Homo sapiens: one gene and its partners. The protein of the gene in region 1 purifies or fractionates together with the protein of each later gene. This does not show direct contact. Each region holds a gene or a part of one and is shown on either strand. Other genes may lie near its edges.

Region 1 (3,811 bases):
CCATTAACAGCACTGACCCCAGACTGCCTTCCCTGAGACAGGATCCTGGTTTTCATGGAGAAGGAATTGGCCACCATCACTAGGAAACCAGACAGAACCCAAGGAGCTCGGACTACTTGGACGGGCCCTGGGTATGGAGAGAGATGGAGAGCCAAGCCCTGTCCAGAGCAGAGGCGTGTGCCCTCCCCTCCCTGGCCTGAGAGCTGCTGGGCCTAGAACAACTTCTCCTGAGCCAGATGAGGAGATGGATGGGTGTTTTTCATGCCCTGCCCTCCCCAGCCTCAACCTCCCACCCAGACAGTGGTACACCCCTAGCCAAAGTCCAGGTAGGGACGAAAAGAACTCTGCTGCCACACAGCACAGACAAGTATCCTGTGGGTTTTTCACCATTCCATTTTATTCTTAACTCTCATACTCTTCCCTCTCTATTGTCAGATCCCAGCTTCAGCAGATGTTGACCCTATTCCGAGAGCTCTGGCTAATGTTCAATCTGAGGGAATACCAGAACACATAACAATTTGCAACACTAGGCAGTTTTAAGATAGCAGAATAAAGTTACTCCTTTTCATATCCGAAATCACCCAAAATCCAGGAGAAAAAAAGAAATGCAAACTCCTTCTTCAGCAAACTAGAACACATTTATAACCTGAAACACAGCTTATAAGGAAAGGCTGCCCAAAACAGGTAAGGGCTACCAAAAGCAGTGAAGATCAAAAATACTGTGAGAAAACACCTAGAGAAGACACCTGTGGTGGCAGATCTCAGACAAAGCTGGCAGAGCCAGCCAGGAGCTGGCATTCCCTGAAGGAAAAAACTAATGATCCCTTATCAGAAAAAATGGGAACAGGGCATGTGGTCTGGTAGTGGGAGCTGCCTCCTACACCCTGGGGGAAGAGGAGGGCAGGGCCAACAGAGGAAACCACAGACCCGCCATCTTCACAGGAAGCAGTGTGTTGGCAAGGCAGAGTGAGAGGAGGGCTCTGAATTGGGAGAAGCCCACAGCTGCAGAACTCTGCTGACAGAGTAGAAGCAAAGACTAAAGGAAGTCACTACAACAACCCTGTGAACAAAGTTCCTGGGAACCAGGGAGCAATCCTGCCCTCTTCTTGGTACCTCCTCCACATGTGTCTCCTGCAAAATGCTGATCCAAGAAGGTTTACCTCTTTCAAAGAGGAACCAGCACAGGATATAGTCAAAGATGCTATAGAAGAAAGAAAGGAATAAACGAACAGGACAAAACATGGCAAACCAAGCAAACTCACCTGAAAAAAGCTGCCACAAAGCAGATAAAAATGGGAACCAAATTTGTAAACTAATTTTGTGATTGATTATTTCAGAAGGGAGACACCTAGCATGGTCTCAACAAAAGATTAAATCCATTTTGGCTAGTTATAAAGGTAACCTCCAGAACTAAAAATAAAAATACACATCTTGCAGATACAAACCTTGAACATAATACAAAATAAAACAGATCATATACTGAAAGATTTTGTTAGAAAGCAAGAGAGGCAAAAAGGCATAAAAGCATGAAATATGATAGTAAAACTAAGACCGAAATATTGACCATGTCATTAAATGGCCATAGTAAACTGCTAAAAAAAGATTATAAGACTGGGGAAAAACACAAAACCCCCAACCATATGCTACATATAAGAGACATTCCCCAAAGCAAAGTGATTTAACAATTTTGAAAATAAAGGAAGGGCAAACACATAACAGGGAAGTGTGAACTCAAACTAAGCAGGCACTGTAATCTTAATATTAGGCAAGTAAAGTTGATTTCAGGACAAAAGGTTTTAAGTGAGACAAGAATACTTAATAATAATAAAGAATGCGATCCACAATTGAAGACCGAACTCACCAAATAGCACCAAAATTCAGAGCAAAAGCTAGAGGAAATATAAGGAGGGGCCTTAGACAGACACACATCAGAGGCATGTAATTTTAATTTCCCTCTTCTAGCTCATGATGGACCAGTGGACCAAAATTAAGTAAAGACATAGAAAAACCAAATTACATAATTAATAAGACAGATCTAACTAATGTGTTCATCAAATTCTATACCTTGAAAACAAAGAATGCATGTTCTTTTCAAGTGTTCATGGAATGATCAAAAAAATTTTCCTGTATATTAGGTCACAAACAAAACTTCAAAAAAAGCAAAAATAATACAGTATCTGATAACACAGAAGGAAAACTAGAAATTAATCACAAAATTATAGATCACAAAATCCTATCACTTAGGCATTTTAAAAAATTCTTTAAACAACTTGACCCCAACTCAGATCAAAAAAGAAATCCATATAGAAATTGCAGAATATCTGGAATACAACAATAACAAAAAGCATTCCACATACTAGAACCTGCGGGGTGCCTCTACAGCAGTTCTCAGAGGAAATCATGGCTGATATATTTATGCTATTAAATTTTAAAAAATGAATGGAGCATAATAAAATAGGGAAATAATAGAACTAAGCAAAAACTAAAGAGATGGTTCTTTGGGAAAAACTACCACAAAAACAAAACAAAATCAATAAAACATATAAACTATTAAAGCTAATCATGTAATGTATCATATTATATTATGTTATATTATTATATTACTATTATATTAATCTATCATGTTGATAGTGTGTACCCTTGATATGATATAATGAAATCTTCCTTTGGGTGTCTTCCCCAAAACCCATAACCTCACTCTAATCATGAGAAAAACAAAGGACAAATTCCATCTGGAGGCCATCCCACAAAATACCTGACCTAACCGGCAAGGTCATCGGAACCAAAGTCTGAGAAACCATCATAGTGAAGAGGGCCCTAAGGAGACCTAACAATTCCACATAATGTGGTATCCTGGATGGGATCTGGAACAGAAAAAGGATATTAGGGGCTGGGCTTGGTGGCTCACACCTGTAATCCCAGAACTTTGGGAGGCCAAGGCAGGTGGATCATTTGAGGTCAAGAGTTCAAGACTAGCCTGGCCAACATGGTGAAATGCTGTCTCTACTAAAAAAATAAAATTAGCCAGGTGTGGCGGCACACGCCTGTAGTCCCAGCTACTTTGGAGGCTGAGGTGGGAGGACTGCTTTAACCCAGGAGGTGGAGGTTGCAGTAAGCCAAGATCGTGCCACTGCACTCCAGCTTGGGTGACAGAGGGAGACTCCATCTCAAAAAAAAAAAAAAAGAAAGAAAGAAAAGGAAAGAAAAAGAAAGAAAGAGAAGAAAAAGGATATTAGGTAAAAACTGAAATCTGAGAAAAAAAGGAAATCTGAAAAAATATGTTAATAACAATTATTAATATTAATTATTAAAATAAGTTAATAATAATGTATCAATACTGGTTCATTAGTTGTGATAAATGTGCCATACTAATGTAAGATGCTAATAATTGGGGAAACTAGGGTGATAAATGGAGTGAGCATATGGGACCTCTCTGTACTATCTGTTTAGTTTTTCTTTAAATCTAAAACTATTCTGAAGAAATAAAGCTCATTAATTAGAAAAGGTTAAATAAATGTCTAAATTTTAGAGAATACAAAAAAAGGACAAAAACTAGAATTCACCTCTTTCTCCTATCTCATTAACCAGATATAAACATTGTCAGCTTTTGGAGGAATTTTGCTTTATTCTCTCTTTTTTTTTGGTCTATAAATTATAATGAATTTTCTTTTTAAAAATTGGTATAATGGGCCTTTATTTAGATTATTTCACCTAAAAATTATGTAATTTGCATTTTCACATATCACTAAATATACTTTAAATGCATAAGTAACTAAATTTTTAAAAACACATAAAACATAAACCATATAAT
Region 2 (3,811 bases), on another chromosome or scaffold:
CCAGTATTATCATACATTAAATATCAGACACATATTACATGTAGCAATCAATCTTAAATGAAGACTGAAGACTTAGATGGCAGCAAGGAAACTTAAATTTACGCAATTATGATTCGTGATTCCAACTTTTCAAGGGGATTAAGGATGCTATGACTGAAGACTCTAATCCCTGTAAATACCCAGGGCTCGCCTCACTCCTTCTTCCCTCTGTCAGCCCTTGTTTATTTCCTTCAGAATACTTGTTTCAGTCTAAATTTCAATATTTATCAAATACCTATACTCCCCACTGGAATAAACTCCATAAGGAGACCATAAGAACACCTATGTCTACCTTTGTATCCCAACATCTAATGAGTCTTCAATAAATATTTGCTAGATGAACAAACATCTTCATAGGTAAGGGTTGAAACACACAGTCACAATCAAGAAATAGCTCCACAACGTCTGATGGGAATATTTCTGACCTCAGAAAAAAACACGGTACCAAAACAACACACAATGAAGAAAAAAATTTAGGTAGAGAAGTGAAGATTATTAACCCTAAGAGCAGAGGGAGAGACAAAAAATAAGTCAGAAAAGAAATAGAAGGAGGATGGGTGCTGTGGCTCATGCATGTAATCACAGAACTTTGACAGGCCAAGTTGGGCAGATGACTTGAGGTCAGGGGTTCAAGACCAGCCTGGCCAACATGGTGAAACCTGGTCTCTACTAAAAATACAAAATTAGCTGGGCCTGGTGGCACGTGTCTGTAATCCCAGCTACTCAGGAAGCTGAGGAGGGGGAATCACTTGAACCTGGGAGGCGCAGGTTGCAATGAGCCAAGATAGCGCAGCTGCACTCCAGCCTGGATGACAGAGCAAGACTCCATCTCAAAAAAAATAAACAGAAAGTAGCAAGTTGCCCAAGAACTTAAATAACATCTGTTCATTGTTGTTGTAAAATAGCATGGAAGTTAACAATTGAAGAGTACTTTATCCTTTTAAAGCATTTTCACATACTTTTTCTCAATGTAATCAACTTAAGTATTATGATGGGCCGGGCACGGTGGCTCATACCTGTATTCCCAGCACTTTGGGAGGCCAAGGCAGGTGGATCACCTGAAGTCAGGAGTTCGAGACCAGCCTGACCAACATGGTGAAAACCCGTCTCTACTAAAAAAAAAAAGTACAAAAATTAGCCAGCCACATGCCTGTAGTCCCAGCTACCAGGGAGGCTGAGGCAGGAGAATCGCTTGAACCCAGGAGGCGGAGGATGCAGTGAGCCGAGATCGCGCCATTGCACACCAGATTGGGCAACAAGAGCGAAACTCCATCTCAAAAAAAAAAAAAAAAAAGTATTATGATGGATGTTTTACTTTTCCATTCTTTAAATACAGACTCAGAAAAGCATTCAAAGCCTTTGATTTCAATCACAGCTCTACTATACCTACTGTGTGATCTTGGTTAAATTATTTACTGTCACTGGGCTTCAACAAAAAAATGGAAAAATAGTATCTCTATGGGGAAATTAACATCTACTCTAAAGGACTCTTATAAGTAATAAATGAAATAACACATGTAAAGAACATGACACAGTAAATGCTCAATAAAGGACATTAACCTTCCCTACAGCCTCCTTAAATAATTTGTACAAGACTTCTCAGGTAGTAAACCTAGGGCTTAAACCCAGATCTCCTGATTACTTAATCTATTTTCTCCTTACATTACATTGGCAGGCTGCCACATACTACTGGACACATAAATACATGCTGACAATAACTAATCATAAAATTTTTATCCATCAGTAACTAATTTTAGCTGTGCAAAAAAAAATTGATCACATTAACTTGGGGGAGCCTGAAAAGATAAAATATAAATGACCCCAAACCACAGGACAGGCTGTACCACAGCATTTCTATACAAACAGAAATTAAGACACTGAAAGCTCTCTCTGAGTTTATGAGGAACAATTGGAGAATGAAACAAGAATGACTGTGATTAAAGGAACCTAAGTTTTTTTGGGGTAAACCAAACCACTGGGCAAAAAAATGCGGATTCCACTCCAAAATAACTCTACCAAGGCTGAGGCATATCTTAGAAAAAGACACCTCTCTGTGCTAACAACAAAACATTTTCTCTTATTCCTTTAAGAGTGAGATAAATTGGAAGTGTGAGAGAAATTGCCAACTTTTTTTTTTTGAGACAGAGTCTCCCTCTGTCGCCCAGGCTGGAGTGCAGTGGTGCTAACTCGGCTAACTGCAAGCTCCGCCTACCGGGTTCACGCCATTCTCCTGCCTCAGTCTCCCAAGTAACTGGGACTACAGGCGCCCACCACCATTCCCCGCTAATTTTTTTTGTATTTTTTAGTAGAGAAGGGGTTTCACCGTGTTAGCCAGGATGGTCTCAATCTCCTGACCTCATGATCCACCCACCTTCGCCTCCCAAAGTGCTGGGATTACAGGTGTGAGCCACCGCGCCCGGTCTAAAAATTGTCAACTTAAACAGACAACATTCACCAATATGCTTGAGGACCAAAATGTTTGGATTTGATATTAATAAGCACCATAAAGCTACATGATCAAAACAAAAGTTTTATAAGTTTCCTAACACATATTGAAAATATTGTGAAAATTATACAGTATAAAAATGTATGGCCGAGCGAGGTGGCTCATGCCTGTAATCCCAGCACTTTGGGAGGCCGAGGTGGGCAGATCACAAGGTCAGGAGATAGAGACCATCCTGGCCAACACGGTGAAACCCCATTTCTACTAAAATACAAAAAATTAGCTGGGTGCGGTGGTGCGCACCTGTAGTCCACTTGAACCCAGGAGGCAGAGGCTGCAGTGAGCCAAGATTGCGCCACTGCCTGCAGCCTGGTGACAGAGCAAGACTCCATCTCAAAAAAAAAATTAATTTAAAAAAATGTAAGCCAGGTGCATGCACCTGTAGTTCCAGCTATTGGGGAGGGCTACTTGAGCCCAGGAGTTTTGAGTCCAGCCTGAGCAACATAGGGAGACCTCATCTCTTCAGGAAAAAAAAAAAATTAAATTACTACTTTATTAATAAAAATAATCAATTGTTTTCTAACGATATACAAAACTAATCTTTTTCAAGTGATATACATAACTCTGTTCCAGCTTAAGTTCTAGAAGTTCAAATCTTTAATCATCTCCAAGAACTTTCTTACTAAAAGACAGAATTCAGTCACATTCTGAACCCGTCCAGTTTTTAAAGGAAATGTCAACAGAGAACCCAATCTAACATTGACAGAACACCACAAGATTTAACCAAGTAAGTTAAAAGCTGAGTGAAAATACAAAAAATTAGCCGGGCATGGTGGCACACGCCTGTAATCCCAGCTACGCAAGGAGGGCTGAGGCAGGAGAATTGCTTCAATCCGGGAAGTGGAGGTTGCAGTGAACTGAGATCGTGCCACTGCACTCAAGCCTGGGCGGCAGAGTGAGACTCCATCTCAAAAAAAAAAAAAAAGAAAAACAAAAAGAAAAAAAGCTGAATGAACTTCTATCACAAAGCATGAGATAAGTTGATTAAGTTGATAAGCTCTATCCCTGTAACCTCCCATCAACACCACCAAATTTCTTGGCCTCAATTCAACTTAAGCCTCTGCCAATTATTTCCTGCAGAAACATAATAAAATATTCCTAAGATTGCTTCATGACACTCACAGCAATTTCCATTTGTTATTTAGCATTCATTAGGAGCCAATGAGATAGTCCTTATAACTCTAAATTCTACGCAGAACTTATCAATTCCCAGTGGACAATGTTGCTTTCTTCTCTACATTCTTTCCTCTGATATACATTCTCTTCTAC
Region 3 (3,811 bases), on another chromosome or scaffold:
TAGTTTTAGTGGTTTCAGCTCAATTCTTCTTAGAATGTGATTTTTCCCACAACACTAATGCTAAATAAAGCACAGTGTAATGTACCGCAAAAGAGTCACTGCTTTAGAAAAGATTCTATGGGTTTTTTTAAAAAAACTAAGAAAAGCAAAGCTTACTCTAGATATATGGGAACAGCTCTTACTATTTCTATAGAGTCATAGTAAATAAATGAATGGGAAACCTTGCCATAGTCTAGAAATCGATTATACACTCTTTATACATGACTATTCTAAACAAAGTCATGTTATATATTTAAAGTTATATATATATTTAAAATACTGTATATAATTATACTAAATCTCCTACATAATCTCCACCACCACATCCTCCCAGGAAAGAAAAGATGTTAAAATGTTTAATAGAGTAGATTGCTGTGTTGAAGTAATGGCTTTGTCACACTATATTTAGTTTTTAAAATAGTTCAGATTTTATTTTTAAAATTAATAGATTCAATAATTTATATTTTATCACTGTGCAAATTTAGAATCTAGTACACTAGATTGGTTAACTGCCTAACAAGGAAGCAATCCAATTGAAAGTTAACAAAATGTCATATTCTTCTAAAAACTTGCTAGAAAACAAATTAAGAGAAAACATTCGTGCATGACTGTGTGTTAAGGATGCTACTAAAATAAAATGTATGTGCAAAGTTGATAAAATGCACACAAGCCCAGAAGTCAAAAGTAATTATCAATATTGATGAAAAAGGTAAAAGATTATCACAATTAGAATGCATAAAAAGTTTCATACATAATGTGTAGAATGTTTTAATTCTTTTCTATTTAAATGAATTTTTATTGAAATATACTAATTGCTAGGAAGGAACTTATGTCTGTTATCATTGTTCTGCTAATATTAAAAATTCTGTCAACAGAATATATGTTCTTAACCATGTTAAGATGCTTTACTCTATGTTATCAATTACAATCCTACATGAGGGAAAAGAATTATTAACTTCTTTAAAATTCTGTAAATTTTGAATTATATTTTCCCAGATAATTTTACACAGAAGAACTGGAGCCTAAAGCAGAATTATAGTCTATTGTAAAGATGTCAATCTTCATAGCCAAATATATAGTCATAAATAAGTAAGTAAATTTCAACAGATTTCTACTGCAATTGAAATACACACACAGAAAGTTACAGAAATTCAGTTTTTTTCCCCCAAAGGTAGTATGATCAGATAAATAAGAATACTGGACACTACATTCCATAACTTGGACTCTAGTCCACATTATATCCCTGACAATTTTGTAATCCCAATCAAGTCACTGTTTCATGCTGGGCCTCAGTCTCCTCTTCTATTAAAATGAGGGGACTGTTTGACACCTTGTAATTCTAAAATGTGATGATGCTAGTGATTTCATGTACAGTCATTAAGCTGTTGATTATAGTATATTTTATTTCAACATTGTGTATGTTTAAGCTTAGATATTTTTCACATATTAATCTATAAACATCATGACTAAATAAAAGACTAATACAGCTATAAATGGTATACACTAATATGTGTGTATATGTCTCTGTGTGTACAGAGTTTGTGATATAAACCATGTTCACACTTTTTCACATACGAGATATGTAATTACTCAAAGATAGAAGGATAAGAAAAAATGATTTTGCCATATTTATTGTACTAGATGGCTCATTAAAATATTTAAACTGACTTTGTGGTCTTACATCTAAGTCATTAATTGGTTTAGGATAAGTTTTGGATAAGATTCAAATAATCATGTGGACTTCCATATAAATTTGCAAATTCATTGCGGATCAAATCAATGGATGACCTTTTCCTTATTTCATAGACATCCAGAGATCCAGATAGTGTTGCTTTACTAGATGACTAAAGACACAGCCTAACTTCCATCAGCTATTAGTGTTTTGCCTATGGTATCAGGCCAAATGTAACGGAAATTACAACATATGCAGATTCATTGTGCCTTATGAAAACATCCTTGGTTATAGACAGGAGAAAAACATTGTAAAAATTATGCTTACAGAATGAGCACTGGAAGCTATGGTTGGCATCACTATGTAGATGCATTTCCACTAAAGAATATATATATATGCTCTCTCTCTCTCTCTCTCTCTCTCTATATATATATATATATATACATATGTATGTATACACACACACACACACACAAATGAATTGACATTTAGTTTTCTTATTGCTTAATAGATGACAGCAAGTCAACCATTTGCTTCCAAAATTGAAGCAATTAAAAAATTCTCCCAAATTTTTTCACTAGGTATACAATGAATATATTGAACATAATTCGATCACTAAAGAGAACATTATGAAGACAAACTGAAACTGTCACTGAAGTTAATGTAAATTTTTTGTATTTCAGGATCAGCTGCAAGTGGATTTTAAAATGGATGTTTATTCAAACTAAGCTCTTGCCAAAAATAAATTACCTTACTTTCCATTTACTAAATACAATAAAATTTTTACTTGTAAGTGCATTATCTAAATAACAGCCTATCAAGGATAAGCTCAATAGAATTCAAGAATAATAAGCAAAATAGTAACTGTACTTTTCATACTATCACTCTTTGGGGGGATTACATTATTTTAAAAGAAAATTGAAAAATGCTTAGCACATAGTAAAATACCAGAGACTTAAAAATAAACAGAAAAATAGAATGCGTATGCCTTTATGTTATGAATGAAAAACACAGTTGTACTTCTAGTTCACAAAAGTTTAACAACTACCAAGACCAGGTTTACCAAGGAAGAATGAAACAGAAAGGTGGATACTTAATCTCAATCATGCTGTCAATGATCCACATTTTGCTCAGCTAAACACATTATTTAGCTGAGAGCAAAGGCTTTTGTTTGAAATGCAAAGGTATGAACTATGAAAATTTGGGCTACATCATCAGTGAGTTTTTCTAAAGTGTGAATTTCGGAAATAATTCCAGCAACTCTACCACACACATTTCCTAGAGTCTGCCATAGAAGCTTGATTTGAATGGCTCTCAAGTCTATGTAAACAAAACAAAAAGTAAGCAGTTAAGGGAGAGTATTATTTACAAACTTTCATTTCTACAAAGCTGTTTAACCTATTATAATGAAAACAACAGGACTTAGGTTCAACACTTTAAAATGTCTAATTTTCATGAAGATAAGAACACTCTTAAGAAACATCACTTTAATTTTTTCACAAATAAATAACTGCAATAAGGCAATTCAGGAAAACTATAAATAAAATGAATGTAAAATGAAATCTCAATTTTTAAATTAGACCCTGCTGTATGGAATTGAAAGAATACAACAGTCTAGTTTTACCTTAGATAAATCCATTTATCAAAAGAAGGAAATTCCCGCGAAACCCTGAATTCTCTTTTTTTCTTTTATAACATCAGGTTTAATCAAAGAAAATATATTTTGGCAGTTCTGTAAAAATTAAAGGTCATATATTTTAAAAATAAAAATAGGAAATTGTCTACTTATGGCACAAACAAAAAGCAGAACAAAAAGGATCCCATTTATGTCAGATGTCAAAACGGAATGTAACTTTGTAAATGGATCCCTTGTCCCCTGACAGCAATATTGAGGAGATGAAACATATCAATTACTATTACTAATTACATTAAGGGGAATGTGTTTCATCTGCCTTTATTTCATTTTAGGTCAGCTATTTACTTGGGGTTAAAAGTGTATACTTCTTTTGAATATGTAATGACAGAAAAGTTTTCCAAAGTCACTTTTGGCAAACTGTGTGATTCATTCCAATTGCTTTGAGGGTTTTCTCTTTTGGAATG
Region 4 (3,811 bases), on another chromosome or scaffold:
TCTGTAAGCGATGTGAAAACGTCATAGTGAGATGTAAGAAAGCGCTGTTGTAGGCCCGTCATTGTTTACTGCACAGTGTGTGGCAGGAAGCATGCAAAGAACAGCTCGGATCTGGAGATGCTCAGAGAATCTGTGTTTCATGCGTGCGTTGCTTATAGTTTGCCTGGGTAGAAAGGTAAGTGGCGTGAAATAAGACAGAAGGGAAGCGTAGCTGTTAGTCATTCATGAGGGAGAACTTCAGCTCTCTCCCTTAACCAGGCTTTCTGGGAGTGTAATTTTGGAAGGTTCTGGGAGCTCTGCAGTGGAAAGGGGTGGGCCAGGCCCAGGGGCTGCCAAGGGTCTGAGAGGCAGGGAGAGCAGAGGCCGGTGACCAGCAGGGGTCCTTGCCTGGGTGGCAGACAGGGCCACAGCCCCAGGTCCGTCTAGGGAGGGGCAGGGTTACCTGTAAGGACAGGTGTGGCAAAGGGGCCCAGGGAGAATGCCCTGCCACCAGCCCCCACGCTGATACACACACACTTCTGCCACATCTGCCACCCTACTCTGCTTCAGCCTGTTCATAGTTGTCAGGTTTGGACATTGGTTTTGGTTCTGTTTGTTTGTTTTCTGTGAGTAGTTTTCCAAATTTTGATAAAAAAGTGATCTTTTTTTTTGAAATGGAGTATCACTCTGTTGCCCAGGCTGGAGTGCAGTGGAGAGATTCGGCTTGCTGCAGTCTTTGCTTCCCAGGTTCAAGCAATTCTCCTGCCTCTGCCTCCCAAGTAGCTGGGATTATAAGCACCCACCACCGTGCCCGGCTAATTTTTGTATTTTTAGTAGACGGGTTTTGCCATGTTGGCCAGGCTGGTCTTGAACTCCCGACCTCAAGTGATCCACCTGCCTCAGCCTCCCAAAGCGCTGGGATTACAGGCGTGAGCCACTGCATGCCCCGTCAAAATGATCATTTTAAATCGTGGATTTTTCCTTTCCTTCCATCATTGCCATTTCCTGCTTTTTGTTGTATCATTAGAGTAAAGCAGGCCTGCCAGTAGAAAGTGCTATATGGGGGTTGTTGGTATTTTATATTTTTGTTAAATGATGTGAAAAAGGTGTAAAATATTTTTAAAAATGTTTGGGTTCAAAGTTTTTCTCTTCCATGGGTCACTTCTGATAGGGGAAATAACTGTGTAAAGTAAAATATGGTATCCAGAGCTGTGACTGGTGCGGGGGCCCTTGTGAGGGAGCGATGGGGAAGCATGCAGGTTGTTAACAGGCACATGTAGAGATGCATGGCTGTCTGCGTAGAATAGGCCTGGCTGCATCAGCATTGGCTAGTTACCAATCTGGCCATTCTAGGTTCCAATATCTTAATGACCGTCAGTCCCTGGGGACTCACAGTGGGGGTTTAATGAAGAAAACAGAAGGAATGGTTGTGGTACCTCAACACTCTGCCTCCACTGATAGCTACAGACAGCCGAGGCCCTTTTCGGCACCAGGTGAGTCGGGGTGAGTCAGGCTCCTGCAAGTCGTAGGTGTTGCTTCCGTGCTGAGATCACGTTCTTTGTTTTGTTTTGTGCCCGTGGCTTGTTGTCCAGCTGTGGGGAACAGACCCTTACACTTGGATGTGGTCGTTATTATGTTGTGGAAGAGCAGTGCCTTCCTCTTAAAGTGCCTTCCTCCCTTAAAACCGTGGCATGCACACTTAACGGTTTTAAGGAATTACATTTTGATAAACCGTGGCATGCACACTTACTGTTTTAAGGAATTACATTTTGATAAACCGTGGCATGCACACTTACTGTTTTAAGGAATTACATTTTGATAAACCGTGGCATGCACACTTACGGTTTTAAGGAATTACATTTTGATAAACCGTGGCATGCACACTTACTGTTTTAAGGAATTACATTTTGATAAACTGTGGCATGCACACTTCCTGTTTTAAGGAATTACATTTTGATAAACCGTGGCATGCACACTTAACGGTTTTAAGGAATTACATTTTGATAAACCGTGGCATGCACACTTACTGTTTTAAGGAATTACATTTTGATAAACCGTGGCGTGCACACTTAACGGTTTTAAGGAATTACATTTTGATAAACCGTGGCATGCACACTTACTGTTTTAAGGAATTACATTTTGATAAACCGTGGCATGCACACTTACGGTTTTAAGGAATTACATTTTGATAAACTGTGGCATGCGCACTTACTGTTTTATTCTATCGTTTGCTTATTTTTTTTTTCTGAAAGGAAAATAAAGCAGTGATTTCAGTGCAGTGTCTGATTTTCTGTAAGGAACATGAGAAAAGTGAGTCCAAAGAGCATTACATAAGCTAGCGTGGTATTCAGTGCGTATCTGAGCGGACACGGACGGGGAGTCCTCGAGCTTTGGAGAGGAAGCAGGCGGCAGGGCCTCCAGCACACCTGGGGGGCGGCCAACCAGCCCGGCCAGGCCGAGCGCTCCCCGCCTGCACAGTTGCACTCATGTCGGGCCTGAGCTGAGTCGTCCCGACAGGATACCTGCGTGGGCCGTGTAGACACAACCCAGGGAGCTCCAGAGTTAATGACCCTCCTGGTTCAGAAGCTCCGTATGTTTTGTGTGAGAAGCGCTGAGCTGTGACGGAGGGAATGCGGTGGGTCTTCCTGATGGTGCGTGCAGTTCTGAGCCTGGCGGGGTCAGCGGCATGGAACCAGTGGGACGTGGTAAGGCCAGGCCTGTGGGCGGTTGCCCTGTGTGGGCCGGGCCAGCTTGAAGTCCGCTGAGGGCTGGAGCCAGCCCCTGACCCTGGCCAGCCTGCTTGCTGCAGGAGTGATAAGAAAGTCGACTCATGCTTTGTTCTCAAGCACTTGACTCAGCAGGCCCGTGGGAAGCAGCCCACACGAGAGGCCCTGACCCACGTCCAGCTGCCTCCACGGAAGCCGCGGCTTCGTGGCTTTCTGTCGTTTGTGTGGGCTCTGCATTCAGCCAGCAGAGGCACTTCTTGCAGAGCAGGGCTGAGGAGAATTCCTTTCTCTGGAAGCTGTGGTCCTGTGTTATGTAGAATAGGTCACTTTTCAGCTGCAGCTGGAGTCTAAACGAGCGTCATAGGTGCCCAGCGCTGCACGGCGGCGCAGCGCTGCATTCGTGGTCCCGAATCCGGGGTCTGCGGAGGAAGAACGCGCGGCGAGGCCCGGGGAGGCTGCTGGGACGGCGGCAGGCACCCTGCTCCTGGAATGGCGTTTAGACATGCAGGTTTCTCCATGATTTAATAGGAAGGAATGAAAGGTGCAGCGTTTTGCCAGCTGATGAAAATATCTGGGGAGCGAGTCATAGGTAGCGGTAGCAAGAAGGAGAGGGTTAGGTTCTCCAGTGTGCAGGCTCCGAAGTGCTCTCTGCCAGCCGTCAGAGGGCTGCAGTTTGGAGGCAGCTCCCGCTTGCTCTAAAGAGCCACTTCCCCGCTCCGTTCTGTCTGCAGACGGCCCCAGAGGGCAAGGACTCCTGGTGACAAGAGGAGTATCAGACGAAGGCAGGGGAGGGAGGCTGTGTGCGCGCACCTGTAATCCTGGGAGATTTCCACTGCAATCCGCAGGCATGCGTGGCAGGCGGCTCATTTCCCGTGGGGCTCAGGCGGCTCATTTCCCGTGGGGCCCAGGCGGCTGTCCTTGGTGGGCGCTTGACTCCTGGGCGTGGCTTCTGTCCAGCATCCAGGCTGCCAGGAGCCTCCGGGGGCCGTGCAAACACCTGCGAGCACCTTCTTGGTCCCTTGAGGCCTTTCTCTGTTGGCTTAGGTTTAGTGCCCTTTTGTGCTTATGTGTTTTTTGAATCAAGTTTTTATACTTGATTTAACTTC

Evidence for each region. The genes of interacting proteins can lie anywhere in the genome.
Region 2: the proteins of SPSB4 (region 1) and AMBRA1 purify together in Homo sapiens (co-immunoprecipitation; 2 studies listed by BioGRID and IntAct, with this or other methods). This does not show direct contact.
Region 3: the proteins of SPSB4 (region 1) and PCDH7 purify together in Homo sapiens (co-immunoprecipitation; 2 studies listed by BioGRID and IntAct, with this or other methods). This does not show direct contact.
Region 4: the proteins of SPSB4 (region 1) and ARHGEF10 purify together in Homo sapiens (co-immunoprecipitation; 2 studies listed by BioGRID and IntAct, with this or other methods). This does not show direct contact.

Annotation. Positions count from the first base shown.
Region 1 is NC_000003.12:141,061,112-141,064,922, reverse strand, and holds part of SPSB4 (SPRY domain-containing SOCS box protein 4), read right to left. Parts: intron 1-3,811. UniProt on the Homo sapiens protein: Substrate recognition component of a SCF-like ECS (Elongin BC-CUL2/5-SOCS-box protein) E3 ubiquitin-protein ligase complex which mediates the ubiquitination and subsequent proteasomal degradation of target proteins.
Region 2 is NC_000011.10:46,587,461-46,591,271, forward strand, and holds part of AMBRA1 (activating molecule in BECN1-regulated autophagy protein 1), read right to left. Parts: exon of another isoform or gene 3,665-3,811; intron 1-3,664. UniProt on the Homo sapiens protein: Substrate-recognition component of a DCX (DDB1-CUL4-X-box) E3 ubiquitin-protein ligase complex involved in cell cycle control and autophagy.
Region 3 is NC_000004.12:30,726,621-30,730,431, reverse strand, and holds part of PCDH7 (protocadherin-7 isoform d precursor), read right to left. Parts: intron 1-3,811.
Region 4 is NC_000008.11:1,826,678-1,830,488, forward strand, and holds part of ARHGEF10 (rho guanine nucleotide exchange factor 10), read left to right. Parts: intron 1-3,811. UniProt on the Homo sapiens protein: May play a role in developmental myelination of peripheral nerves.